Linked DNA regions of Homo sapiens. The protein of the gene in region 1 interacts with the protein of each later gene in a pairwise test. Each region holds a gene or a part of one and is shown in the gene's direction. Other genes may lie near its edges.

What was found.
Region 2: the proteins of PIANP (region 1) and DEFB127 interact in binary tests that used the Homo sapiens proteins (3 or more experiments, as listed by UniProt).
Region 3: the proteins of PIANP (region 1) and TMBIM6 interact in binary tests that used the Homo sapiens proteins (3 or more experiments, as listed by UniProt).
Region 4: the proteins of PIANP (region 1) and CMTM7 interact in binary tests that used the Homo sapiens proteins (3 or more experiments, as listed by UniProt).

Annotation. Positions count from the first base shown.
Region 1 is NC_000012.12:6,697,796-6,704,943, reverse strand, and holds the start of PIANP (PILR alpha-associated neural protein isoform b precursor), read left to right. Parts: upstream 1-4,128; 5' UTR 4,129-4,330; intron 4,331-4,528; exon of another isoform or gene 4,529-4,809; intron 4,810-6,839; 5' UTR 6,840-6,882; coding exon 6,883-6,899; intron 6,900-7,148. UniProt on the Homo sapiens protein: Acts as a ligand for PILRA in neural tissues, where it may be involved in immune regulation.
Region 2 is NC_000020.11:152,430-159,665, forward strand, and holds DEFB127 (beta-defensin 127 preproprotein), read left to right. Parts: upstream 1-5,024; 5' UTR 5,025-5,115; coding exon 5,116-5,164; intron 5,165-6,344; coding exon 6,345-6,595; 3' UTR 6,596-6,734; downstream 6,735-7,236. UniProt on the Homo sapiens protein: Has antibacterial activity.
Region 3 is NC_000012.12:49,758,551-49,765,454, forward strand, and holds the end of TMBIM6 (bax inhibitor 1), read left to right. Parts: intron 1-132; coding exon 133-212; intron 213-670; coding exon 671-771; intron 772-3,153; coding exon 3,154-3,229; intron 3,230-4,322; coding exon 4,323-4,346; 3' UTR 4,347-6,384; downstream 6,385-6,904. UniProt on the Homo sapiens protein: Endoplasmic reticulum (ER)-resident protein that confers cellular protection as an anti-apoptotic protein by limiting multiple stress-inducing pathways surrounding the endoplasmic reticulum and mitochondria.
Region 4 is NC_000003.12:32,443,834-32,450,859, forward strand, and holds part of CMTM7 (CKLF-like MARVEL transmembrane domain-containing protein 7), read left to right. Parts: intron 1-5,620; coding exon 5,621-5,719; intron 5,720-7,026.

The DNA of each region.
Region 1 (7,148 bases):
GGGGAAGTTTTCTCCTGCTTGTTTCCATTTTCTCAGAAAAGCAGCAAGCAAGATCATCAGCTGAGAGAGAGAAGGGTTCAGAAGAAGAATATTGGATATTTGAGGACAGAAAACAGAAATTCACCCTAAATGAGCCCAGTCACGGTGGCTCACGCCTGTAATTCCAACACTTTGGGAAGCCAAGGTGGGAGGATTGCTTGAGCTCAAGAGTTCGAGACCAGCCTGGCCAACACGGCGAAACCCCGTCTCTGAAAATAAATAAATTAATTAAAAATGAGCCCAGAGATAGTGATGAAGATACCAGCAGAGCCAGAAACAGGACAAGGATGTATAGAGACTGTATAGAGACTGTAGAGTGTGGGTAGGTCCTCAAATTCATCTGAAGTCACATTTATCACTGCACTGTCTCCCTACCAGACTGTAAGCTCCACCAAGACAGTGATGACTTCATTCTTGCTCTCCGCTGTATCCCCAGCCATGGCACGGTACCTGGCGTGTCACACCATTTAAATGACCATATTTGTATGACCAGCCTGGACAACGTGGCAAAATCTCATCTCTGCCAAAAAAAAAAAACAAAAACAAAAAACAAAAAAAAACAACCACCACCACAAATTAGCCTGGCATGGTGGCACACACATGTAGTCCCAGATACTTGGGGGCTGAGGTGGGAGGATTGCTTGAGCCAGGAGGTCAAGGCTGCAGTGAGCCATGATTGTGCCACTACACTCCAGCCTGGGCAACAGAGTGAGACCCTGTTTCAAAAAAAAAAAAAATGTGGAAAGAATGAATGAATCAAGAATAATAGAAATAATTAATGACCCAAGGTCCTCAGTGTCAAAGGCACTTACACTGAACATGAATATTCACTTGATAAACTTGGTCCATGCCAGTGACATGAGTTCACCTGGAGCATATCCTCAGGATGCTCTGGGGCTTAAGGGGCCCAGGAGGTGGCAGGAGTTGCGCACCTGACTCACATGGCCCCTTGGCCGGGTTCACATCCAGTGTGCCTTGTCTTTCCCCCACCACTGGGAGACACTAGGAGGACGGCTCACTCGCTGCTGTTCTGACCTCAAATGAAGGGCTGTCAGGGACACGCAAGCAAGAGGGCAGCTGCTGCAGATGCTCGTCAGAACAGCAGGCTTCCTTCCTTTCACGAGGCAGGAGCGCCAGGCTGACAACGGGTCACAATGCAGCAAATGAAGGAGGAGGATCTGAAGGGGTGTGGACATGAGCAAGGGCTCAACCTGAAGCATTTGGCGTAGGGCAGAGATCAGTAGGGGGCAGGCAGCTAGAGAGGAATGGCTGGAGGACAGCAGAGGAGAGAATTAAAAGAGTTCAGAGTGGGCAGGGGTCCCAGAAGAAGTTCATTAAGTGGTACATGTTGAGCATCTACTACATTCCAAGGCACTGCAGTAGGAGTAGGGATACACGGTAAACAAGACAAATAAGATCTTGGCTCTCTAATGTATAGGGGGGCAGGAGAGAGCAGACAGTAAATAGTAAACACATATATGATCATTTCAGAAAGTGATGAGTCGGGCCAGGCGTGGCGGCTCACGCCTGTAATCCCAGCACTTTGGGAGGCCGAGGTGGGAGGATCACCTGAGGTCAGGAGTTCGAGACCAGCCTGGCCAACATGGTGAAACCCCGTCTCCACTAAAATTACAAAAATTAGCCAGGCATGGTGGTGTGCACCTGTAATCCCAGCTATTTGGGAGGCTGAGGCAGGAGAATCGCTTGAACCCAGGAGGCAGAGGTTGCGGTGAGCCAAGATTGCACCATCGCACTCCAGCCTGGGCTGCGAGAGCAAAACTCCATCTCAATAAATAAATAAACAAATAGAAAGTGATGAGTTGGAAAGACAATGAAACATAATGAGGAAACAGAGTGGGGGCCACTTTAGATTTTGAGCAGGGATGAAGGAGCCAACCAGGTGAAGATGGGGAGAGGGGTGGCAAAACATTCCAGGAAGAGGGAATCAAAAGTGGAGGGGCCGGGCGCAGTGGCTCACGCCTGTAATCTCAGAACTTCGTGAGGCCAAGGCTGGTGGATCATTTGAGGTCAGGAGTTCAAGACTAGCCTGGCCAACATGGTGAAACCCTGTCTCTACAAAAAATACAAAAATTAGCAGGGCACTAGTGGGCACTGCCAGAGGGGTGGGAGGGCTGGGAAGGCTGGAAGGGCCCCCCTGCATGCACACGCTAGCTACTTGGGAAGCTGAGGCAGGAGAATTGCTTGACCCTGGGAGGCGGAGGTTGCAGTAAACTGAGATCGTGCCATTGCACTCCAGCCTGGGCAACAGAGAGACACACTGTCTCGAGAAAAAAAAAAAGTGCAGGGATGCTAAGAGAATGACTTCTGATGTTACAGAACAGCAAGTAGTCTGATCCAGCAGGAGCACTGTGTATGAGGTGGGTACAGGCTGGTGGGCTTCTCCTTACAAGGAGTTCAGATTTATTCCAAGTGTAATGAAAAACCACTCGAATATTTTAAGCAGAGAAGAGCATGACATGCTTTTGATTTTTAAAATATTATCAATATAGGAAAAACTAGTTTGTAAAGACAAGGGCAGAAGCAGGGACCAGTGAGGAAGCTATTATGATAATCTGGATGAGACATGATGGCTTAGACCAAGACTATAGCAATAAAGATAGAAGGAGATGAATTCGGGATATATTTTGGACGCAGAGCCCACAGGACTTGTTGGTGAATTAGATACAGGGAGAGAATCAGTGAAAAAAAGGGGAAGGGAGGGATGTTTCCTAGATTTTTAGCCTGAACAACTAGTAGTTGTGAAGCCTCAGGATGGGGATCACTGGGAGAAAAATGGATTGGGGGTGGGGGAATTCAAGACATCTATTTTAGTCAAGTTAGCTTTGCATGGCTATTAGACATCCAAGTGGAGATGTCAAGTAGGCTGTCGGATAAATGAGTCTGGCGCTCTGGATATAAATTTAGGACTCACTGACATTTACATAGTATTTAAGCCCTGGGACCGGATGAGATCACTGGACAGAGAATGTGGAAAGAGAGAATGGCCAAGGACTAAGCCCTAGGAGGCTCCAACATTTAGAGGTCACCCGAGGAAGACTAAGAACAGTCAGTGAGGTTGGAGGGAAATGAGGAGAGTGTGGTGTCCTGGAAGTGCCCTGAGGAAAAACAGCGTAGTGTGGTAGAGAGGGATGGGATCCAGGTGGTGGGAGAAGGGGCAGGAGAGGCTACTTTTGATAGAGACATTAGGGAAGGCCTCCCAGAAGGCGTTGGATCTAAGTGAGACTGGAATGAAAACAGTAAGTCATTGTGAAAAGCCAGGGAAATGTATTACTGAGGGAACAGCAAGTGCAAAGGCCCTGAGGCAGGTTAAACCTGTCTCCAACCAGGAAATCCACCAGGTCCCATGTGGCTGAAGCATAGAAATCTTTAGGAAAGGCAATCAGAGAGCCACCTAAGAGCCAGGTTATATAGGGTCTTGTAAGTCACAGCACGGAGTCTAGGTATTCCAGTGCTGGAAAAGCCCAGGAATTTCGACGTGATCCACTTAATGCATGGTAGCAGGGCCAGAGTGAAATAGGGGATCAAGCTGTGGGGATAATCCAAAGATGGTGCAAGGTCCTTCCTCCCCAGTCCTTTCCTCCACCCCTTGCCCCCAGCCTTGACCTCAGGCACTTTCTACAGCGGGCAAAACCAAGTTGGGGGACAGGCAGTGGTGACTCACGCCTGTAATCCCAGCACTCCGGGAAGCTGAGCGGGAAGGATCGCTTGAGCCCAGGCGTTCGAGACCGGGCTGGGCAACACAGCGAGACCTCATCTCTACAAAACACAATACAAAAGAACAAAGTTGGGAATGCAGAGCATTGAGTGACTCAGAATCTCAGAAACTGACTGAGGCGACCATGGGTGTCCCTGGAGTTGGGGTGAAGGAGGTGGGGAGACTGCCATCAGAACCCAGGGAAGCGGACGGTCGCTGGACCCTGCCAGCCTCTTCAGCCCTCCACCTGGGACATAGCCTGGCTTGACTCCTGCAGCGCGGCAGCAGGAGGGTTAAACCGTGCGTGGCCTCCGGCGCGGGGGGGAGGCGGAGACGGAGACGGAGCGGTCCCAGCCGCCGCGCCGAGCCCAGCCGAGCCGAGCCGAGCCGAGCCGAGGCGAGCATCTCCCACCGCCGCCGCCCCGCGCCCCAGGCGCCCGCCCCCCACCCGCTCCAGCGCCCTGCCGCGGGCCAAACCTCCCCACCATGCCCCGCACCCCGCCCGCTCCTGCGACCCCCCAGCCCCGCTCAGTCCCGAGCGCCCGCAGTCGTCGCGCCGCCGCGCCAAGCATGCAGGTGAGTGAGAGGGACCCCCACGCCCCCACCCGCGGGGAGCCCGGCCCTGCCCTTCCCGGCTCCGCGCCCTGCGCCTCCTGCCCCTCCCGACGCGGTCCCTCGCCCGGGACAAGGCCTCCAGCCTCCCAGCGCCCCTTCCCCGAAGGGCTCTCCATCCCTCCGCGGTCCTGGCTCGCTCCCGCCCTCCCTGGCGCAGCCGTCCCCGTCCCCGCGGCTGCCTCCATCCCGCCTCGGCTCGGCGGGCGGCTCCGCGCAGTCTCCTGCTTCGGGTCCCCAGTCCGCTCTCGGCACTCCCTGCCTCGGGGTCCCTTCGCCGACCTCCTTTTCCTCGTCTCCCCCCACTCTCGCCGCTCTCCAGCCCTGTGCGGGGAGTGCGGGCCTGCGGGATGGGTGGGATGGGGGCCACGCTGGGGCTGGGGCCCGGCTCCCGCACCCCGAGGCTCCTGCCCCACCCCCAGCTCGTCTCCTGCGCACAACAGGTCGGTGAGAAGCTGGGAGAGGGGTGGGGGTGGCGCGCCAGCCCGGGGACTGCGGGCTTCCTGGAGGGGGCGGCTGAAGCTGTGCGGGGCCCAGGGACTGGGTTGGCGCTGGCTGGGGGTGGGGATGCACAGGCGGAGGGGCGATAGTCCTAGAGTCAGCTGGCCACAGATGCGCCCTGGGAGCCCTTCTCCGCTTCACTGGTTCGCTCTACACGCCTCGCTCCCTCCCTCTAGCTTTCTTCCTTTCCCCTCTCTCTCCCTTCTTCCCACCATGCCCCCATCCCTATGTCTTTCGGTATCTCCACATCCCTTTACATTTGGGGGAGCAATTCCGAACTCCTCCATCTTTGCTGCTCCCGCCTCTGCTTCCCAGCCCGTTCCTCGTGTCATTTTTCCTTAAGCATTTATGTTCTCTCCTTCCCCACTTCCTTTCTCCCCATCCTGGGCTTTCCCCCCTTTTCTCCCATCCCCTTACTCTCCACTCCTCTGGCTGTCCTGCCTGGACCGCTCTCTCCTTCTCCTCCTGCCCCTTCTTCCCCTGCACCTGTGACCCCTTCATCCTCTCCGTTTCCCCTCCCTGACCTTTTCTCTCATCCTTTCCTCCCTTCGGCATCCTCCACAGTTCGAGTCTTCTGTACCCACTCTCCTCCTCTCTTCCCAGTTCTCTCTTTTTCAGGACTGCCTGCTCTCTCTCACCCTGCACTCCAGGCCAGCTTCCTCTTCACATTTCTCCTCTCTCACTCTTAACCAGCCTTCCATCTCCCAGCCCTTCACCCCTTCCCATCTCTCCCACTGCCTGCTTCCCCACGCCCTTCCCGTGACTTTCCCATCTTGTTCCCTTGTTGTTCTCTGGGAAGATTCAATGGGCAGATTTATTTATTTTATTTTTTGAGTCGGAGTCTCGCTCTTGTTGCCCAGACTGGAGTGCAATGGTGTGATCTCAGCTCACTGCAACCTCCGCCTCCCAGGTTCAAGGGATTCTTCTGCCTCAGCCCTCTGAATAGCTGGGATTGCAGGCGCCCACCACTACCCCCGGCTAATTTTTGTATTTTTAGTAGACACGGGGTTTCACTATGTTGGCCAAGCTAGTCTCGAACTCCTGATCTCAGGTGATCCACCCGCCTTGGCTTCCCAAAGTGCTAGGATTACAGGCGTGAGCCACTGCGTCTGGCCCATTGGGCAGATTTAGACCCAGAATCCACAGGAAACGGGTATCCTATCTTCACTCCCTCTGGGGAGCCTGCCCCTCCTGGATCCACCACCCTCAGCTCTGAGAACACACCCTTTCTCTTTCAAAACCAACCATCCCGATTTTCCCAGGATTCTTTACCCAGGAGAGCCACATTTGAGGGGGTGGTTTCTTCCTGACTCCACCTCCCTTCAGAGGGCACCTATGCACTTGGATGATTAAACATTAAGAGCAAAAATTATATTCTGTAGTTTTTCTCCCACTCACCTCTCTCTTTCTGTCTCTTTCCTTCCATCCCTCCAGCTCTTCATTCCTTTCTCCTGAAGATGCAGACTCCTGGGGCTAATCATAAGACAAATGCCTGGCACTGCCAGAGGGGTGGGAGGGCTGGGAGGGCTGGAAGGGCCCCCCTGCACGTACACACACTCACTGGCTTGCTCAGATTGACTTCCCCATCCCTCCCCCTACCCTCAGACTCCCTCCCTAGCGGTAGGTGCTCAAGGAATCACAAGGTTCTTGGCTCTAAATTAAGATCCAAGAAAAGCCTGGAGCTGTGGGCAGAGGAAGTGAGAAGAAGGGAAATCAGAGAAGCCAGAGTAGACCCTGGGGTGGAGAGGTAACAGGGACCTGAGAAGTTGTAGATGGGGCTGGAGTCTGGTCAGGCAACCACGCTGGAGTTTTTCCCCCAAAAGGATGCTAACAACCAGTGAATCCTGGGTGCAGCCGCATAGCTGGCAGCTGGGTGGCCTGGGAGGGCAGATGCGGGTAGAATTGGTGGATGAATTAGCTGGGGAAGTACACAGGGCAGGGCTGGGGTGTGACGGCCCCCTTTTTCTCCCAGTAAAGGCTGAAAATCTGGGTCACAGCTGAGGAAGACCTCAGACATGGAGTCCAGGATGTGGTAAGTTTGGCCCAGCAGAGGGAGCCTGGAGACCACATTCCCTGGGGCCATGACTCCTTCCTTCCTAGACCCATCCAGAGCCTTCCCATCCTGAGGGCCATCCTCCTTTGGAAGATGGGAAATGAGGCGAGTCTTCCCAAGGCCCACCTGCTTTCACAGGGAAACCTGGAGGTTTCTGGTGTGAACCTGTCCCTCCCTCACATAGGCCCACAGTAGGCCTGTGTCTCAGCCACGCTCTCTCCCTTCTTG
Region 2 (7,236 bases), on another chromosome or scaffold:
AATCCAAATCCTATATCTAGCAAAAAAAAAAAAAAAAAAGTTCTCTAGGAATAAACAGGGAAAGAAAAACATTCTCAAACAAGAAACTATTAAGGGAATTTGTCACTAGCAGCCCTATCCTAAAAATATAGTCAAAGAAAGTTCTCTAAACCAAAATGATAACCGGGGGCTTGGAACTTCAGAAAGGAAGAAGTCGAAGTCAATAGAATGGGTAAAATGGGAGGTGAATATAATAGACTATGCTTTTTTTTTTGCTTTATTTTTTTTTTATGCTTTCTTTTCTTGAGATAGTGTCTGGCTCTGTCGCCCGGACAGGAGTGCAGTGGTACAATCTCAGCTCACTGCAGCCTCGACCTCCTGGGATCAAAGGATCTTCCCTCCTGAGCCCAGTGAGTAGCTGGGACCACAGGAGCCGGCTAATTTTTATATTTTTTTGTAGAGACAGGGTTTCACTGTGTTGCCCAGGCTGGTCTCGAACTCTTAGACTCAAGCAATCTGCTGCCTCGGCCTCCCAAAGTGAGACTATCTTTTTATTAAAGAGTTTTGAAATCATGTTTGGTAGATTGAAGCAAAAATTGTAACATTGTCTGATGTGGTTCTAAATAGATGTAGAGGAAGTACTTAAACATTATAAGCTGGGTAAGGCAAAGAAATTTAAAGTGAGGTAAGTTTTTATACTTCATTCAAACTTGTAAAACTTTGACACCGTAGACTGTGATAAGTTAGGTACAGCAACCACTAAAAAAAATAAATAAATACAATAAGAAATTATAGCTAAATTATAGTGGAATTCTAAGGAACAAATAGAAAACAAAATATAAAATGGTAACTTAATCCCTAACATGTATCAAAAAGATACCCCATACAAATATTAATCATAAGAAAGTAGGAATGGCTATATTAACATCAGTTAAAGCAGACTTCAGAGCAAAACAAATTATCAAGGACAGAGAGGGAAATTATATAATGCCAAAAGGGTCAATCAACCAAGAAGACATGGCAGCCCTGATCGTCCACAAACTGAAAACCAGAGTTTCAAAATACCTGAAGCAAAAACTGATAAAACTAAGAGGAGAAATAAATTTACAATATCAGGCCAGGCGTGGTGACTCATCCCTGTAATTCCAGCACTTTGGGAGGCTGAGGCAGGCAAATCACTTGAGCTTGGGAGTTTGAGATCACCTGAGGCAACATAGTGAGACCCCCCTCTCTATAAAAGATACAAAAACTAAGGTGTGGTGGCCCACGCCTGTTGTCCCAGCTACTCAGGAGGCTGACATGGAAGGCTTGAGCCCAGGACATCGAGGCTGCCGTGAGCTGTGCACTCCAGCCTGGGTGACAGAGCGAGACCCCGTCTCAAAAAAAAAAAAAAAAAAAAAATTACAATATCAACTTCAACAGTTGATAGATAGGACAACTAGACATAAAATCCACAAGGGTGTAGAAGAATTTAAAAATACCACAAAGCAACAGGATCTAATAGACATTTATAAAACATTTCATCCAACAACAATGGAATACACTCCTTGGTGTTTATGCCAAGGAAATGAAAGTGTTTTTCTCCACAACTCCCGGGCAGGAATATCAATGGTAGTGTTATTTATAATAGCCCAAAAGAGTAAACAACCAAAACGTCATTCAACAGGTGAATGACTAACATAGGGTGGTACATCCATACAATGGAATACTTCTCAGCAGTAAAAAAAAAAAAAAAAATGAATTATTGATACATGCAACAGCTTATATAGATTATAAGAGCATTATGCTGAGTGATGAAAAAAGACAAAGGGTCACATAGTGTGTGACTATATTCACATAACATTGTCTAAAAATTATGAAATGTAGAACAAATTAGTGCTTTCCAGGGGTTATGAATAGTCAGGAGAGGGAGGGAAATATGCCAGTAAGACAATAAGAGAGGGAGATCTTTTCATAATGAATAATTCTGTATTTTGATTTGTTGATGGTTAAATGAATCTAAGAAGGATCTGATAATCTAGTATTAGACGCATAGTACAGTAGTGAACTTTCAGCCTCTAGAGAAGTGCTCTCCAATAGAAGTAACTAAAAAGATGGAAATGTTCTAAATCTGTACTATACAATATGTTAGCCACTGGTCATGTGGTTGTAAAGCACTTGATATGTGCTCTATAATATTTTGAGCAAGTTTCTTATGTTTTCTGTGCCTTTGAGTTTCTCATTTGTAGAATGGAGATAATAATATCTACCTCAAAGTGTTGCTGTAAAGGTAAATGAGTTTATGTATGTAAGACACCGACAGGAGTGCCAGCACATAGAAAGTGTTATACAAGGGTTAGCCATTTGTTATTGTCATTGTTGTGTTTTGTTCTCTTTCTAATGTCTGGACCTTCAAATGATTCAGACTCATGGGACCATACTTCATTCTGTTTTTATAACTTTAACCTGTAAGATTCTCATTTTAATTGGAATTTCATATTTAGGAATTCTTGGGTGCCTTGGATATATGAAGAAAAGATTCACATCTGCTTCCACTAAACAACTAGCGAATTAACAACTGAGATTTCTTATAATTAAATTATTTACTTGATTTTTTTAATCCATATAAATAGCTTGAACTTAGGTTGAAACCCATGAGAATTTGTGGCTACAGTTCATAGGGTTAATATTTACCTTCTCCATCCAGAGCCAAGGTTAATGCTGACAAAATACAATCTAATACAGATTAATCTGTGTGTGTGTGTATGTATACACTCGTGTCAGAGAGAGAGATTTCATTCTTCCTTAGGCTGAGATTGTTGCCTTTGAATCTCAGGTTTATATAAGGGTATCAATTATATGTCTTCCCTAGGACTAGATCTTAGCTTTATACATCTCACATAGCCATCAAAATAATGTTCAACTTATCTTTCAGGGTTTGCAATCTTAGTTTTTGGCCTGTGCAGATTCCTTTCATTTTTGACGGTTTCTCAATGCAGTAATTTCCTTTTTACATTTACCCAACTTTTTTGGTTATTTTCACCAGATACATTGTTCAATATATCTATTCTACTATATTCTATTAATAACAGTCTACTATATATGTGTCTTATTGTCTAATATTGCTGAAATCTTTTTTTAATCCAATAATGAATCTCTGTCATCTAATCAGTGAGTTTAAGCCATGTGAATGTATTATAACTACTGATCTATTAGGACTTTTTTCTGCCCTCCAGTTGTGACTTATCTATTCCTCATTTTTTTTAGTTTCTGTTGGATGGATCATATGTTCTTCTGCTAATATGAATATTATAATTTTATTTTTATTTGTTTTATTAAAAATTTGTCCTTGCTCTTAGGACCCATTCCTATCCTTATATTTATTATTACTAATTTAACATCCAGCTTCAGAAATACAACTTTAATAGGAAGGCTTTTTGTATTTCTCCTGACTGCTCAGACTTAGGGTCTTTATTTGATGCTCCACCACCAAGTCACCTATAAGGAAAGTTTGCATTCACAGGAAGACTATAAATAATAAAACCAATCCCTTGACTAGGACTTAAACCATGTAAAAGCTGGTGGCAAAAGTAAAGGGAGGTGACCCTTGAGACCTCTGAGGTAACTGCTCTTAAATTTACATTTGCCTCTAAAAAGGATTTCTTATATGTCAACATCTCTCTGTTTAAACATATTCTTGTGTAAAACCACTACGTGACCTGAATAATGGCCATAGGGCTCATCTCTAAGCCAACTGGCTTATTTATTTAATGCATCTCAGTGGTTAACAGGGTTGAAATTTTTTGAAAACTGCAATCAATGATCAAAGAATGATCTAGGTAAACATCGATTCCTTGTGGCAACATTTTAATATTTTCAAAGACAAGGTACAACTGGTAGAAAAAAAATACCCTCATGCATCTTTTTCTTCTAATTGTGGTAAAATATATGACATAACATTGGCCATTTTAGCCATTTTTCCTTTTATTTTTAGTTGACACATAATTGTACTTATTTATAGGATACAAAGTGATATTTCAATACATGCATATAATGTGTAATGATCAAACCAGGGTAATTAGCATATCCGTCACCTCAAACATTTATCATTTGTATTGGGAACATTCAAAATCCTCTCTTCTAGCCTTTTAAAAGTATACAATAAATTGTAGTTAACCATATTCACCTTACAGTGCTACAACACCAGAAGTCATTCCTCCTATCTATAATTTTGCATCCATTAGCCAATCTCTCTCCATCCTCCCCTCTCCCTAATCATTACCAGCCTCTAATATTAATATCTGCAACACTACTCTCTACTTCCATGTGCTCAACTTTTTTAGCTCCCATATATAAATAGGAACATGTGGTAATCTTTCTGTGCCTGACATTTCACATAACATAATGTCCTCCAGGCTATCCATGTTGTTGCAAAGGACAGAATTTCATTATTTTTATGGGTGAATAGTATTCCATTGTGTGTGTGTGTGTATATATATATATATATATTCCATTGTGTGTTATGTATGTATAGTATTCCATTGTGTGCATATATATGTATATATGTGTGTACATATATATATACATAATATATATTCTTCTGCACATGGAAATCCAGTTTCTCCAGCATGATTTATTGAAGAGGGTATCCTTTCCCCAGTGTATGTTCTTGGTGCTTTTATAAAAAATCAGGTGACCTCAGATCAGACCCAACTACATCATACCTTCTTTCGAAATGTGCAAGAAACCTACTAGAAATTCTTATTGTTAGAGTTTCAGATTTATGTCCTGGTTTATACTGCCACATTCATTCTTGGAGGTGAGTACATTTCGATCTTGGTCCGGCTGCGCAGAGAGTCAAAGCAGGAAAATCACAGATTCTTCCCAGCAGTCTACAGCCTACACAGCGGCATTTGGTGCGATGGGATGGAACATGCTGTATCTCTATTCCATGTGGGGGTAAAGTGGGTGGCCTGAAATTTCCTGTGTCTGCCTGCATGATGCAAAGCTCACAGTTCAGAAGCTTAAGGACACACTTCATATCATCCCATCTGTTCTGGTTCAGTGCATAAGAATCTAAGTCTCTGAGGAAGGTAGCATAGTGTGCAGTTCACTGGACCAAAAGCTTTGGCTGCACCTCTTCTGGAAAGCCTGGCCATGGGGCTCTTCATGATCATTGCAATTCTGCTGTTCCAGAAACCCACAGGTAAACCAAACCAGAAGCTCACTCAAATCAACAGTGGGATGGAGCATTTTCAGGAGCCAAAGGGAACTTCATAATCCACACTAAAGGGAAATAGAGCCCCCAAAGATGGCTAAAGTTTATCCAACATCATCAGAAATTTCCTCTTTCTGGAGCCTTATTCCATGTTACTATCCTTAAAGAGGAGTACTCACTGAGCTAAAAAGAGGTCATAATTTCTTCTGGGAAAGATGTGTTGTTATAGAAAGGAATGATGCCAATATCTAGGGATACCTTTATGTCTTTGGATATGGTTTTTACTCTGATGCTCAGCTATATTTCCTTTTACTCAAATATATATATGTGTGTGTGTGTGTGTGTGTGTGTGTGTGTGCATGAATAGAGGAAGAAGCAAATTTTGGAGTTAGGTTTAAGAAACATGCCTTCAATATCTACTAGTTTGTCAACTTTAAGTAGTGAAGACTCTAGGAGCCTCAGTTTCCTCATCTATGGAGATAATGACACCTGGTTAACAGGGGTTTTATTAAATGATATAACCTATGTGAAGCTTGGCACATACTGAGAACTCAAAAATTAGAGTTTCCTTTCCTCTTTCAAAACCAGATTTCTTACATGTGTCCCTTATTATAAGAATAGTAATGGCCTATTCCTGACCCTCTACATTCCTAAGACCCAATAGACTACTACCTTACTGGATAACATGAAAGTCATTCTTGACCCTGATAGTGGGTTTGAACTCAGGAGAACAGTTTGATTCAGACATAAACACATAGTAACAATACATTGTTCTCTGGGCATCAGAGGAGGTGCAGTAGAAGGTAGTGCTCTGGGAGCATTCAGGATGCAGGCAGATTTGCTGAGGTTCCTATGTAGAGCATAGTTCCATAGCCTAGAATCAAGGGTTCAGCTCCTTTATTTTCTCAGATAAGATCTTATGTTCTTGGCAGAGTCTATCAGATGTTAAGGGAGGCCTAAAACCTCACAGGACCTAAATATAAGTGATCCAGTTAAATACAAACACTGAGGTTGACCTTGTCGGAAAATCCTCTTCAGAATATATGAGGGTCTGCCTTGTGGATACCCCATACCCCTAATTCCTACAAGCCTCCTCTGTCTTCCCCAAAACCAACGTGCCTTCAGTCTCAAACACTGATATTGTTCTATTGCTCCTTTCTGTGTATAGTAACCGAACAACTTAAGAAGTGCTGGAATAACTATGTACAAGGACATTGCAGGAAAATCTGCAGAGTAAATGAAGTGCCTGAGGCACTATGTGAAAATGGGAGATACTGTTGCCTCAATATCAAGGAACTGGAAGCATGTAAAAAAATTACAAAGCCACCTCGTCCAAAGCCAGCAACACTTGCACTGACTCTTCAAGACTATGTTACAATAATAGAAAATTTCCCAAGCCTGAAGACACAGTCTACATAAATCAAATACAATTTCGTTTTCACTTGCTTCTCAACCTAGTCTAATAAACTAAGGTGATGAGATATACATCTTCTTCCTTTTGGTTTCTTGATCCTTAAAATGACCTTCGAGCATATTCTAATAAAGTGCATTGCCAGTTTTCTGTCTCATTTTGTTCTTTAACCAGGGGTTGAACACTCATTATATACTAGGTAATGAATTGATAAGAACTCAGAACCTCTCCTTGAAAAGGGGATATGACAAGTACACTAAAAAAAAAAAGTCCTATAGTGTGGAAGTCTGGAATAAGAAACTCAGAAACACTGACATGTAATTTAGGAGAGGGAAAGGTGAAGCAAATATTCAGGGGAAATTCATGAGTAAGTTTAGGAATAAAGCAGTGTCTTGTAGTAAATAAGTAAATAGTAAAGCAGTAAATAAGTAGGATTTCCATGGATGAGGTTTGGTAGGGAAGGCAATTTGAGTGAACAGAATGGGAGGAAATTGGAAAAGACAGAACATTTCAAGACACTATACATGCACTTTGTTTGGATGAAGAACAGAGCACTCAAAGTTGAACTATGGGGGAAGTCTGATTTCCTAAGCTCCTGTGTACCAGCAGTGAACTGGGAAGACGGAGATAAATAAGATTCCACTGTTGT
Region 3 (6,904 bases), about 43 Mb from region 1:
TACCCCTAACTCCTTTGCGACTATTGAGTTGAGATTAACCTTCATTCTGGGGGAAGTTAAGGAATGGCTTTAATGGGATTGCTTTACTTTGCCTTGGCTTCTCTCAAGACAGCTTTTTGCTGTGTCTTATAGGTATCTTGATGTCAGCCCTGAGCTTGTTGCTTTTGTCTTCCCTGGGGAATGTTTTCTTTGGATCCATTTGGCTTTTCCAGGTAAGACTTAGCCTGGAACTTTCCAGCAGCCATTTGCCTCACACTTCTTTCTTTCCTTTTTTTTTTTTTTTTGCACTTCTTTCTGTACTACTTTGGGCAGTGCTCTCTAAGCCTTCCCATTATCCTTCATAGGATGGAGCCTTCTGCCACAAGTGAAAACAGGCTGCACAAGGTTGGGCATTGCTAAGAGAAAATGGTTTGCTCAGACACCATTTGTGTAAGGCCAGTCTGGCAGTGGCTGATTGTTAAAATGATTGAAACTCTTCCAGTGACCAGTGCAGTATTGTGCCTAGGGAAGTAAAGTGGTCTTCACCCTAGGCTGCAGTTCTCGTGAATGGTAATGTTCATAGGGTTCACATTTGATGTACTTTCAAGTGACTATGAGCCAGAAAGTATGGCTGGTTTTTTTTTCTCTGCAACTTCTGCTGTATAGTAACTTCATCTCTTACATTTGTTAGGCAAACCTGTATGTGGGACTGGTGGTCATGTGTGGCTTCGTCCTTTTTGATACTCAACTCATTATTGAAAAGGCCGAACATGGAGATCAAGATTATATCTGGTGAGTGTGGGAACTAGTCTTTAACAAGCATGAAGGTTGAGGCATACCGTTCAGCAGCTGAACTTAGGTTGGCATTGGCTGAACATAGGTGGCCAAGCTTTGGGAGTGTATGTGGTAGGAAACCCACGGTTTTGGAACTGTGTACCATAATCTTCCTCAATTCCTGAAAGATTTCAGATTTTTTAAAAATCTGGGCTAATAGGCCAGGTGTGGTGGCTCACACCTATAATCCTAGCACTTTGGGAGGCTGAGGCCACTGGATCGCTTGAGCTCAGAAGTTTGAGACCAGCCTGGGCAACATGGCGAAATCCCATCTCTACTAAAAATATAAAAAAATTAGCTGGGCATGGTGGCACATGTATATAATCCCAGCTACTCAGGAGGCTAAGGTATAAGAATCATTTGAACCTAGGAGGTGGAGGTTGAAGTGAGCCAAGATTGCACCACTGCACTCCAGCCTGGCAACAGAGCGAGACCCTGTCTCAAAAAAAAAAAAAAAAAAGTGTGGGGGCCGGGCACGGTGGCTCACGCCTGTAATCCCAGCACTTTGGGAGGTCGGGGCAGGCGGATCACGAGGTCAGGAGATCGAAACCATCCTGGCTAACACGGTGAAACCCTGTCTCTACTAAAAATACAAAAAATTAGTCGGGCGTGGTGGCGGGCACCTGTAGTCCCAGCTACTCAGGAGGCGGAGGCAGGAGAATGGTGTGAACCGGGGAGGCGGAGCTTGCAGTGAGCGGAGATTGCACCACTGCACTCCAGCCTGGACGACAGAGCGAGACTCCTTCTCAAAAAAAAAAAAAAAAAAAGTGTTGGGGGGTGGCTATATATTTACATATCCATAGTGGCTACCTCCAAGCAGAAGTGAGGGAAAGAGATCTTTCTCCTTTTCCTATTTATACTTCTGTATTTTTTAAACAATGAGTAGAAGATACACTCTTTTTTTAGAGACAGGGTCTCGCTCTGTTGCCTAGGCAGTAGTGTGGTGCCATGAACACAGCTCGCTGCAGCCTGAATTTACTGTGCTCAAGCAGTACTCCTGCCTCAGCCTCTTGAGTAGCTGGGACAACAGGCACGTGCGACCATGCCAGGCTAATTTATTTTTTGTAGAGATGGGGTCTTACCATATGCCCAGATTGGTCTCAAGCAGTCCTCTTGCCTTGGTTTCCCAAAGTGTTGGGATTACAGGCTTAAGCCACCATGCCCAGCCACTTTTTTTTTTTTTTTTTTTTTTTGAGACAGTTTTGCTTTGTCACCCAGGCTGGAGTGCGGTGGCAACATCTCAGCTCACTGCAACCTCCGCCTCCTGGGTTCAAGCGATTCTTGTGCCTCAGCCTCCCTAGTAGCTGGGATTACAGGCACTCTCCACCACGTCCAGCTAATTTCTGTAATTTTAGTAGAACGAGGTTTTGCCACGTTGCCCCGTGAGGACATGGTGTCGAACTCTTGGCCTCAAGCAATCTGCCTTCCTCAGCCTCCCAAAGTGGTGGGATTACAGACATGGGCCACCATGCCCAGCTCACTTTTTTTTTTTTGAGACGGAGTTTCGCTCTTGTTGCCCAGGCTGGAGTGCAACGGTGTGATCTTGGCTCACCGCAGCCTCCGTCTCCCGGCTTCAGGTGTTTCTCCTGCCTTAACATCCTGAGTAGCTGGGATTACAGGCATGCACCACCATGCCCGGCTAATTTTGTATTTTTAGTAGAGATGGGGTTTCTCCATGTTGGTCAGGCTGGTCTCAAACTCCTGACTCAGGTGATGCCCGCCTCAGCCTTCCAAAGTGCTGGGATTACAGGTGTGAGCCACTGTGCTCGGCACTTTTTTTTTAATGTAGTGATTCTCTCAGTCTCATGACTAATTAGTGGTAGTTAAGGGTTCAGACTTGGACCTCTGCAGAGTTCAGAGCGCTTGAGACAGGGCTTGCTCTGTCACCCAAGCTGCAGTAGGAGAGTGGCACTGTCATGGCTTACTGTAGACTCAAGCTCCCTGGGCTCAGGTGTTCCTCCCATCTCAGCCTCCTCAGTAGCTGGGATTACAGGCACATGCCACAATGCCCTGCTAATTTTTGTAGAGACGGGATTTTGCTATGTTACCCAGGTTGGTCTCGAACTCCTGGGCTCAAGCAGTCCACCTGCCTCAGCCTCCCAAAATGTTGGGATTACAGGCATGAGCCACTGTGCCTGGCCCAGTCTCTTTTCTCTATGCTGCATGACTTCGATGAGTCTAAAGGATCTCAGACACCAGAGTTTTACTTCCTTAGTTGGGGGTAAAGTGTGGGAGAAGCTGGCTCGTGGGGGTAGGGGTGGGGTTTATATTCTGCATCTTTGTGGGCTTGTGGATAAAAAAGTCTGAAGTACAGATCCTAATCTGGTTCTTGCCTTTCAGGCACTGCATTGATCTCTTCTTAGATTTCATTACTGTCTTCAGAAAACTCATGATGATCCTGGCCATGAATGAAAAGGTTAGTTAGCCTACAACCCAAAGATGAGACAATAATGGCTCCTGAGCTTGGCATGTGTGTATACTTCAGATTTGAAAACTTGCTCACACACTGTGTTAGGTCCAGGGTAACTGTAAGGCAGGCCACTGAGTAAGAGGTAAGCCAGAAGTCTTCAGTTGTTAGAAAAAAAGCAGCAAGTGAAAAAAAAATTTTTTTAACTAATTCCTGCGTTTAGTATGAAAGGGAAAAAAGCTTCAGTGGCAGTAAACACAACCTGCTACATGAATAATTTAAAGGCTATATAGTTGTGACTCAGAGAAAGGTATTGTGGAGGACGTTGTAAATTTCAGAAGTAGACTAATTTTATCCATTTGTTAATTTTTTTTTCCAAGGAAGCATTCTATATAGGGCTAATGAGTATCTAACGTAGTTGAGTCAAGCAGTGGGGGAAACAAATGAAATGAGCTTTTCTTTATAGACCTTATGGAGCTTAGAGATAGCATAGTGGTAGCGGGAGTAGTTGACCAGATAGGATTGCTGGCTCTGTCTGGGCTATGCCATGGTTGGACTGAGCACTAGGCAGATGTACAAGTTTCAGAACAAGCAACTGAATTTTCATTCCTTAATACATTGGGCTTCCATCCAAGATTGAATGAAGAATTCTGCTGGACCAAATTATTTCTGAATGTCAGTTTATGCCAGAGTCATGCTCACTTTGCAGGGTGGAGCACTTCTCGCGCCTAATGGTTGGTTGGTGGTCTTGGCCTCTAGTTTCACTCTTTGAGGATAGAGTGCCATCTGCAGCCTTCACTGTTGGGATCTGAGCTGTAGTGGCTGTGAATAGCCTAGAGTGGTCAGGCAGCCCACCTCGGCACTCCTGGGGTGGGGGTGGGGACAGCTGCTTAACCTTTATTCTTGGTCGGTCTGTCGGCAACTTTGGGAACCACCAGTAGGATGTGGTTAAGATTCAGTTCTTGCTGAGCTAAGGAAGCATTTCTCATTTCTTTTTAATTGTCTGGCTCACTTCTAGTCCCTAACTAAATGCTCACTCAAGAGTTTTAGCTTGAATGTCAAATGTCAAAAAATTAATTGGGTGATTTTTCTCCATTTCTAGGATAAGAAGAAAGAGAAGAAATGAAGTGACCATCCAGCCTTTCCCAATTAGACTTCCTCTCCTTCCACCCCTCATTTCCTTTTTGCACACATTACAGGTGGTGTGTTCTGTGATAATGAAAAGCATCAGAAAAGCTTTTGTACTTTGTGGTTTCCTCTATTTTGAATTTTTTGATCAAAAAACTGATTAGCAGAATATAGTTTGGAGTTTGGCTTCATCTTCCTGGGGTTCCCCTCACTCCCTTTTTTGTCAACCCCATCTGTAGCCTCTTCCTCTACTCAGGCAGTCGACCCGCCACGATGAGAAGTGGGACCAGCAGAGGGCGCCAACTTCAGGAGTCCGCTTTCCCACCAGGCTTCATTCACCCAGTGGACCTGAACTGTTTGGTAGAGCCACCCGGCCCTTCCTTCCTCATTGTTGTTTGGTATGCGCACAGTTCCTGTGGGACTGGGCCGTGAGTTTTCCATTGGAAAGAAGTTCAGTGGTCCCATTGTTAACTCAGCCTCAAATCTCAACTGTCAGGCCCTACAAAGAAAATGGAGAGCCTCTTCTGGTGGATGCTTTGCTCCCTCTGAGCTGCCCATGCTGGTCTGGCAAACACACCTTTCTGCTTTGCCTTCACAAAAGTAATGTGTTCCCTTTCCCACCCCTTGCCTGACCCTCAGGGAGTCAGCCTGCTTCCATCCATGGGTGGGAAGACTTCAGCACAAAGGAAAGACTAATTCTTGTCAGGCATTTTTGAAAAGGCTGATTATGTGTATCAAGGTACAGCATCGTAGGGTTCCCCTAAACTTGCCCTGTTTTTGTTTTTTTAGTTTGTTATCCCCTTACTGAGCGGCCTCTACTAGGTGGCTGTGATTAAATGTCCCAAGCAAGGATAGGGAAGGGGAATGGTTGAGCCTCTGGAGATCATTGTAACCAATCCTGCCAGACCTGTTTGGGGCAGTGGGGAGCAAACCTAGATAAGGACCTGTTTGGGGCAGCAGGGAGCAAAATCTCCTTTAACAACCAAGCAGTTCCTCATTCACATCAACAGAGCGAGGCTGTGATAACTTAGGAGGCAGCAATCCTAATAGTCCTTCAGTGCATTTTAGTCTGTCTCCAACTGGACACCAGTAGGTAGTGTCAAGCCAGAGATTCGGGGCAGTAGATAAATGTTCATTTTACTGATGCACTTTAGTTTTTGGTCTGTTACCTGTTTTCCAGAAATTTGTGGCCTTTTAGGCGGGAGTTAGGCGACCAAACCAGTGAGAGCCCCAATCCCTGCAGTTTTGTGGCTTCAAGTGTGGGTGGACAGTCCTAATGGGGATCTCCAGCTCCTTCCTGTGGGCTGCCACAGACAGCTACCCCCAGAAGGGTCAATGTTGGGAGTGGTTGTGGCTCTGAGCTGCTCTACAGAGCTTCAGTGTGAGAGGATCGAGCCATTGAAAGCTCATTACCAGTAGGACATAATTTTTGGCTCTCCCTATTCACAACCAGTGCACAGTTTGACACAGTGGCCTCAGGTTCACAGTGCACCATGTCACTGTGCTATCCTACGAAATCATTTGTTTCTAAGTTGTGTTTATTCCTGGAGTGACATGCCACCCCGAATGGCTCACTTTCACTGAGGATGCTGTCCTCTGATTTAGCTGCTGCCTCCAGCCTCTGGCTTGAGAACTTACTAAAGGCACTTCCTTCCTGTTAAACCCCTGTTAACTCTCCATAAATTTGGTGATTCTCTGCTAGGCCTAAGATTTTGAGTTAACATCTCTTGAAGCCAAACTCCACCTTCTGTGCTTTTTGCTTGGGATAATGGAGTTTTTCTTTAGAAACAGTGCCAAGAATGACAAGATATTAAAAAAAAAAAAGAAAGAAAAAAAAAAAAACACCTACTTTTAAAGAAAATACCTAACAGATTTTTAATATAGTTATCTCTACCACTTTCTTTTCTAGTTTCTTGATTTTCAGCTCAGGCTGCATTCTAACTCATACTGTGAAGACAAAGGTGTTTTTGATTCAGAAATATATGAAATCTGCATAGTCTTAATTTGTAAAAAATAAAGAAAATTCCTTAACCTTTCCTGGTGTTTGTGTTAAATTCAAGGGTACAGCTGGTCATGGAGCTTGTGATACTGCCAGGGTTTGCTACTGGGGGCTGGGAGTGGGACACGATTGAGTTCGTGTCATAAGTATGAACAGAGACAAAGACCTCCCACTCTGTAGCCCCAGCATGCCACAAATGTTGAGAATTTTCTCTGTCAAATATGTAAGCCAGTTTTTTTTCCAGTCCTCTCCACCCCCTGCCACCTTTGCTATATGTTGTTTGTGGTGATATGTGCAGTTGGTTCAGATGTGCAGCCAAGCTTTGGAGTTTGAGGATGCATAATGGAAAAAAGGCAAATGATACCCACTCATTCTGCAAGTATTTTTGTTCACCCACTGCTGCCCGGCTGTATTCTAAGTGCATTAGTTAATAAAGATGTAAAAGTTGGCCAGGCATGGTGGCTTATGCCTGTAATCCCAGCACTTTGGGAGGCCAAGGTGGGCAGATCTCGAGGTCAGGAGTTCAAGACCAGTCTGGCCAACATGGTGAAACCCCA
Region 4 (7,026 bases), on another chromosome or scaffold:
ATGTGCTTTTGGCCATTTGTATATTTTCTTTGAAGAAATGTCTATTCGAGTCCTTTGCCTATTTTTTAATTAGGTTATTTGTCTTTTCATTATTGAGTTGTGAGAATTCCTTCTATAGTCTGGATAAAAGTCCCTTATCAGCTATATGACTTGAAAATATTTTCTCCCATTCTGATGTTTTTCACTTTTTTGATGGTGTCCTTTAAAGCACAAGTTTTTAATTTTGATAAATTTAGTTTATTTATTTTTTTTCTTTTTTAGCTCACGCTTTTCTTACATATAAGAAGCCATTTCCAAATTCAGATTGTGAAAATTTACTTCTATGTTTTCTTCCAAGAGTTTTATAGTTTTAGTTTATACATTTAGGTATTTGATCCATTTTGAGTTAATGTTTTTTGCATAGGGTGTGAGGTAAGGGTTCAATTTCATTCTATTGCATGTAGATATCCAATTATCCCAGCATCATATGTTGAAAAGACTATTCTTTCCCCCATTGAATGGCATTGGCACCCTTGTTGAAATCAGTTGACCATTAAATACATGGATTTAGTTCTGGACTCTCAATTCTATTCCATTGATCTATGTGTCTGTCGTTATGCCATTATCACACTATTTTGATTACTGTAGCCTTGTAGTAAGTTGTAAAACTAGCAAATATGCAGCCTCCCAATTATTCTTCTTTTTTAGGATTGATTTGGATCGTTACAATTCCATGTGAATTTTAGAATCGGGTTTTCAATTTCTACAAAAATCAGCTGGGATTATAATAGGAATTATGTTGAATCCATAGATCAATTTGGAGAATATTGCTATCCTAATAATATTGTCTTATCCATGAACATGGGAAGTTTTTCCATTTTTTTAGATAATCTGTTATTTCTTTCAATGTTTTGTAGTTTTCAGAGTAAAAGTGTTTTTTGTTTGTTGCTTTGTTTGAAACAGGTTCTTGCTCTGTTACCCAGGCTGGAGTGCAGTGGCAAGATCATAGCTCCCTGCATCCTCAAACTCCTGGGCTCAAGCAATCCTCTTGCCTCAGCCTCCCAAAATGCTGGGACTACAGGCATGAGCCACTGTGCCTGGCCTGAACTTTTTAAATTAAATTTGTGTCTGAGCATTTTATTCTTTTTGATGCTATTTTAAATCAATTTTTTTCTTAATTTTATTTCCAGATTGTTCATTGCAAGTGCATAGGAATCCAATTACTTTTTGCATATTGATTTGTGTCCTCAACTGTGCTGAACTACTTAGTAGTTCTAATATATTTTTCTAATATATTTTTAGTGGATTCCATAGGATATTCTGTAAACATGATCTGCAAATAGAGATATTTTTACTTCTTCCTTTATAATCTGGATGCCATTTATTTCATTGTCTTGCCTTATTGCAAGAAATTAGTTGACTAAATTAGACAAATATTGAATAGAAATGGCAGAGCAGCCATCATTATCTTTTTCCTCATGTTAGGAGGAAAGCATTCCTTCTTTCATCATTAAATATAACATTGGGTGTGAGTGTTTTGTAGAAGCCCTTTATCAAGTTGAAGTTCCCTTCTAGCATTACTTTGTTGAGTGTTTTTATCATAAAAGAGTATTAGATTTTGTCAAATGCTTTTTCCGTATCTACTGAGGTGATGAGTTTTTCTCCCATTATTAGTATGGTGTCTTACATTGTTTTTTGTTTTTTTTGTTTTGTTTTTTTAGACAGGATCTTGGTCTATCATCCAGGCTGGAGTGCAGTGGTATAATTATGGCTCACTGCAGCCTTTATTTCTCAGGCTCAAGCGATCCTCCCACCTCAGCCTCTTGAGTAGCTGGGACCACAAGTGTGCACCACCATGCCTGGCTAATTTTTTTTTTGTTTTTGGTAGAGATAAGGTCTCCCTATGTTGCCCAGGCTGGTCTTGAACTCTTGGGCTCAAGTGATCCTCCTTCCTCGGCCTCTGAAAGTGTGGCGATTACAGGCATGAGCCCCCACACCTGGCCTGGTTTGTTTGTATATGTTGGGCCAACCTTGCATTCCTGGGGTAAATTCCATTTGGCCATAATGTATAACCCATTTTATATGCTGGTATATTCAGTTTGCTAATATTTTGTTGAGGATTTTTTGCATCTGTATTTAAAAGAGATATTGGTCTGTAGTTCTCTTTTTTTCTGATGTCCATCTGGTTCTGGTATCAAGTTAATACTGGCCTCACAGAATAATTTAGGAAATATTCCCTCCTTTTTTATCTTTTGAAAGAGTTTGTGCAGAATTGGTATTAATTATTCCTTAACTATTTGGTAGAATTTAGCAGTGACACTGGGTCTCAGCTTTTCTTGTGGGTAATTTTTTTTATTGTTAATTCGAACTCTAATTTTACCATCTTTTCAGATTGCATCATTTATTCTGGAGTCAATTTTAGTAGTATATATGTCTAGGAATTTGTCCATTTCATCTAAGTCATTGAATTTATTGGCATGCAATTGTTTATTGTATTTCTTACATTCTTTTTATTTCTGTAAGTGCAGTAGTAATGTTTCCTCTTTCGTTTGCATCTTCTCTCTCTCTTTCTCTTTGATCAATCTAGCTGAAGATTTGTCAATCTTGTTGATCTTTTCAAGAACCAGCTTTTGGTTTCATTGATTTTTTTATTGTTTTCCTATTATCTTAATAAATGTTGCTTTAATCTTTATTTTTTTTCTTTCCTCTTCTTGCCTTAGGTTTAGTTTGATCTTCTTTTCCTAGTGTCTTAATGTATAATATAGTTTGGATATCTGTCCCCTCCAAATCTCATGTTAAAATTTGATTCCCAGTGTTGGAGGTGGGGCCTAGTGGGAGGTGTTTGGATCATGGGGGCAGATCCCTTGTGAATGACTTGGTGCTGTTCTAGTGGTAATAAGTGAGTTCTTGCTCTGTTAGTTCCCATGAGAACTGATTATTAAAGAGAGGCTGGCACCTTCCTCCCCTCTCTCTTGCTTCCTTCCTCTTGGCTGTGTGATGCCTGCTCACCTTCACCTTTGCTTCAGAAAGTAGAAGCTCCCTGAAGCCCTCACCAGAAGCAGATACAGGTGCCATGCTTCTTGTACAGCCTACAGAACCATGAGGCAAATAAACCTCTTTTCTTTATTTGTTGCCCAGCCTTGGGTATTCCTTTATTAAAACAACGCAAAACAGACTAAGATGATGTGGAAGGTCATCATCTAATTTGAGACCTTCCTTCTCCTTTAATATTGGCATTTACAGCTATAAATCTCCCTCTGATAACTGTTTTACTTGTATTCCATAATTTTGGTATATTGTGTCTTCATTTTCATACATCTCCAGGTATTTTCTGATTTCTCTTATGATTTTTTTTCTTTGATCCATTCATTATTTAGGAATATGTTGTTTAATCTCTATATATTTCCCTGATTTCCCTCTGCTCTTGATTTCTAATTTGATTCCATTGTGTTCAGAGAACATATTTTGTAGTCCTTCTTACCTTTATTGAAGTTTGTTTTATGGTCTGATATATCGTCTATCCTGGACAATGTTCTGTGTACATCTGAGAAGAATGTACTTTTATACATTGTATATTTGTATATTATACTTTTGCTGGATAGAGTTTTTATAGAGGATTTTTAGGTCTAGTCATTTTATGGTGTTGTTTGAATCTTCTATTTCCTTGTTGACCTTCTACCTGGTTGTTCTATACATTGCTGAAAGTAGGGATATTGAATTCTCCAACTATTATTTTTGAATTGTCTGTTTTTCTCCTTCATTTTTCTCATTTTTCACTTCATGTGTTTTGGCTCTTTTATTAGGTGCATATACGTTTATAATTGTTATATCTTACTTACGGATTCAGCTTTTCATTGTTATAAAATGTCCCTCTTTATTTCTAGTAACTTTTTTTTGTGTTCGATTCTATTTTGTCTGATGCAGTGTAGACACCCTGGCTTTCTTTTGGTTGTTGTTTGCGTGCCATTTCCTTATCTTTGAATATAAAGTCTCTCTCCCATAGACAGCACATACTGTAGTTATTTCTCGTTTTGCTTTGGTTTTTTAATCCAATCTGACCACCTCTGCATCTTGATTAGATTGTTTAATTGTTCACACTTAACACTATTACCCACTGTTATTTTGAGAGAAATTTCTTTTGTGTTTCTAAGTTCTAAGGCCCCTTTCAAAGTTATGGCATTTTTTTCTGCTTCTTTTGAGAACAAATTCCTCTGGGGCTTACCTGATGCAGATACTGAACAAGCAAAGGAGAGAACAAAAGCTCAGGGACAAGCACAAGAGTGGGCTGCATGAGGAGTGAAAGTTGGAAGGACAGACTCAGCCACACATTTTTGGCTGAGATACTATTTAAGTACTTCCGGTTAGGATTCTCTCAAGTTGGTTTTCTCTGCCCCATGTCATCCTCCTCTGTCTTAATAGTTGAGAATCTTGGAGGTGGGGAACTTGCAGTTACTCATCTGTTCTTCAGTTAAAATCTCTGTGATCTATCTTGTGATATTCCTTTCTAGTCACTAAGGGAGAAACCAGGGTCTTTGATTTTACATAGCTTTGAGAGGAGCTACAGCTTTAAATTGGAATGCTTTTCCAAAATTTAATAGCTGCCTGCCCTAAGGGGCAGAACTTCATGAAGGAATGATTTCTAGATTCTCATTGAAGACAACTGAAAATGGATGCACCCTGGATTCAGAGCAAGCACTGGAAGTGGCCCCCAGCCTCAGTTCTTCTCGGATCTGATGTTTAATGGGGAAGAGAAAGGGTGAGATGGAAGCTTTCCCTCGCCACTGAAAGGCCCATCTCATCCAGGGCCTGCAAGGATGCTGATTAATCATGATGAGTGAGTGGGGTGGAAATGCATGGCCCATGGGCCAAGGCGAGAAGCAAAGGTGGAACCAGTCCTGCCAGTGGATTCATTGGCAGAGCTTGGCCGGGAGGGCACTCTTCTGGAGAAAAGAGAAGAGGGAATGACAGGAAAAAAAAAAAAAAAGGCAGGAAGGCTCAGGAGTGAGAAAGCCAGCTGCCACCACACATCCACAGGCACTTCACAGAAGTGCCACTGACCTCATTCTAGAGTCTGAGTCTGACGGGACCCTGGGAATGAATACCTCTCAAGTCCACACTTGGGGCCATTCACAGAGTGGGCTGACACTCCCATCAGTCACACAAGACCAGCACATTGTTAGCCCAGAACTTTCTCCGAAGCAGAAGAGAAAGGCAAATATCTCTTTAAGGTACTTTGCTTCTCCGAGCTGGAGCTTTGTTTAAACTCTCCAGCCGGGAAGTTGCAAGAAGCTCGTTTGCTTTTTAGTAGCTTTAGCCAGAGGTTAAGGCACTGTCCACAGATTGCTCTCAGGAGTAGAGGAGTCCTTAGTGGCTATCTCTGCTCACACCAGAAGCTTCCTTTCTCTCTGTCCTCTTCCCTTCCTGCCTGCCCGGCATCACTTCTGTCTTGCTTGGCCTCTTCCTGGTCAGCCCGCATGTTGGCTGCCTGCGAGCGGCTCTGCTCATCCCATTTGCGTGTTGCAAGGGAGAAGAGGAAGCGTCACTCTCTCCCTTTCTTTTCATGTCTTCTGATGCCCAGTTGCTCTTCCCGGACCAGAAATGGACGGCCCTACCCACTTATTTGCTTTGTTTCTGCCCCCAGGAACTTCTGCACTATTTAATCGGTACCCTGCTCCTCCTCATCGCCTCCATTGTGGCAGCTTCCAAGAGTTACAACCAGAGCGGACTGGTAGCCGGAGCGGTGAGGATGTTTTGGGGAGCCTTTAGGAATGAATTCTTATTTAAAATGCTCATTTTCTTCCTGATGGGGGAAGAGAAGGGCTTGGTTTCTGGGGCATTCCCTTCATAGAATCAATACCTACCTTGATCCAGCCATCAGCTCTCTCCAAAGAGCCTTAAGCAGAGGCGTACAGTCCCAGAAGGTGGATTGTCAGGGCTGCCAGCAAATTCATAGACCCCAGCAGCCCAGGCCTCTCTCTCTTACAGGCACTACTGAAATCAGGGGGCCAGGCGGGTTTTAATTCACACACCCACTCTGATCATTTGCTCGTTGGCTGCCTCAGCACTATGCAGAGACAGATGCTGGAGCCTCTTTTGGGCCCAGTGGGAAATGTACTGTGATCAATTAGAGATACATGCCATGAGCCTGAGCTTTGCCATTCCTGATTTTTAACAGTATTCAGGCCAGGAAATAATACTCCTGTATCTTTCAGAGGCAAAAATTGATCCATCTGATAGCCATAAATAGAAGTAGATGGAAATATACAAAAATACAGTCCTGTGAGATATATACATACATATATATGTATATACATACAGATGTATATGCTATTTTTTTAAAGATTCATAGATTCCTGTCATCTGATTTCTGATTTAGCTAACTATTTATAGTTCAGTGGCCTGTGGGCCAACACTGATTTGCTTCACTGATGAGCAGACAAGATTTTAAAAATGAGTTTTGAGAAAAGCTCTCTCAAGCCAGATGTGGTAGCTAGCATGCACCTGTAGTCCCAGGCACTCGGCAGGAATGCTTGTGCCCAGGAGTTCGGTCTGGCCTGGGCAACGTACTGAGACCCTGTGTCTTAAAAAAAGAAAAAGAGAAAAAGAAAAGCTCTCTCTGTATGTGACATTCATTGTCTTTCACTTACGTATATTACCAAAATTTTCCAGACTTTGGCCTGGGAGTGGGTTGGCTCCTGGAATTCCACTGAGGGATGGAGTCTCTCCTCTGAAGGTCAGCATGGGGGCAGAAGGTCACTGTAGAGGGTGGCCAAACCTCCCAACACTGATGCTCCACATGGCCCTCCCACAGCCCACCATCACACCTCTCTGCCCCCTCTCTCTGCTGTCTCTGAAGAGAGGGATGGTTGCCCCCTGAAGCTTAACACCTGCCCAGCTACAGTGCAGGGTACTGGAAGAGGCACACAGGAGACCTGTGCCCACTGTGTTTCCGGGCCCACTTGAGGAGATTCCCACTGTGTTTAGTAATTCAGGTTGCACATAACTGTTTAGCCCTGGAATCTCTATAGCTAACATTCATCATATGCT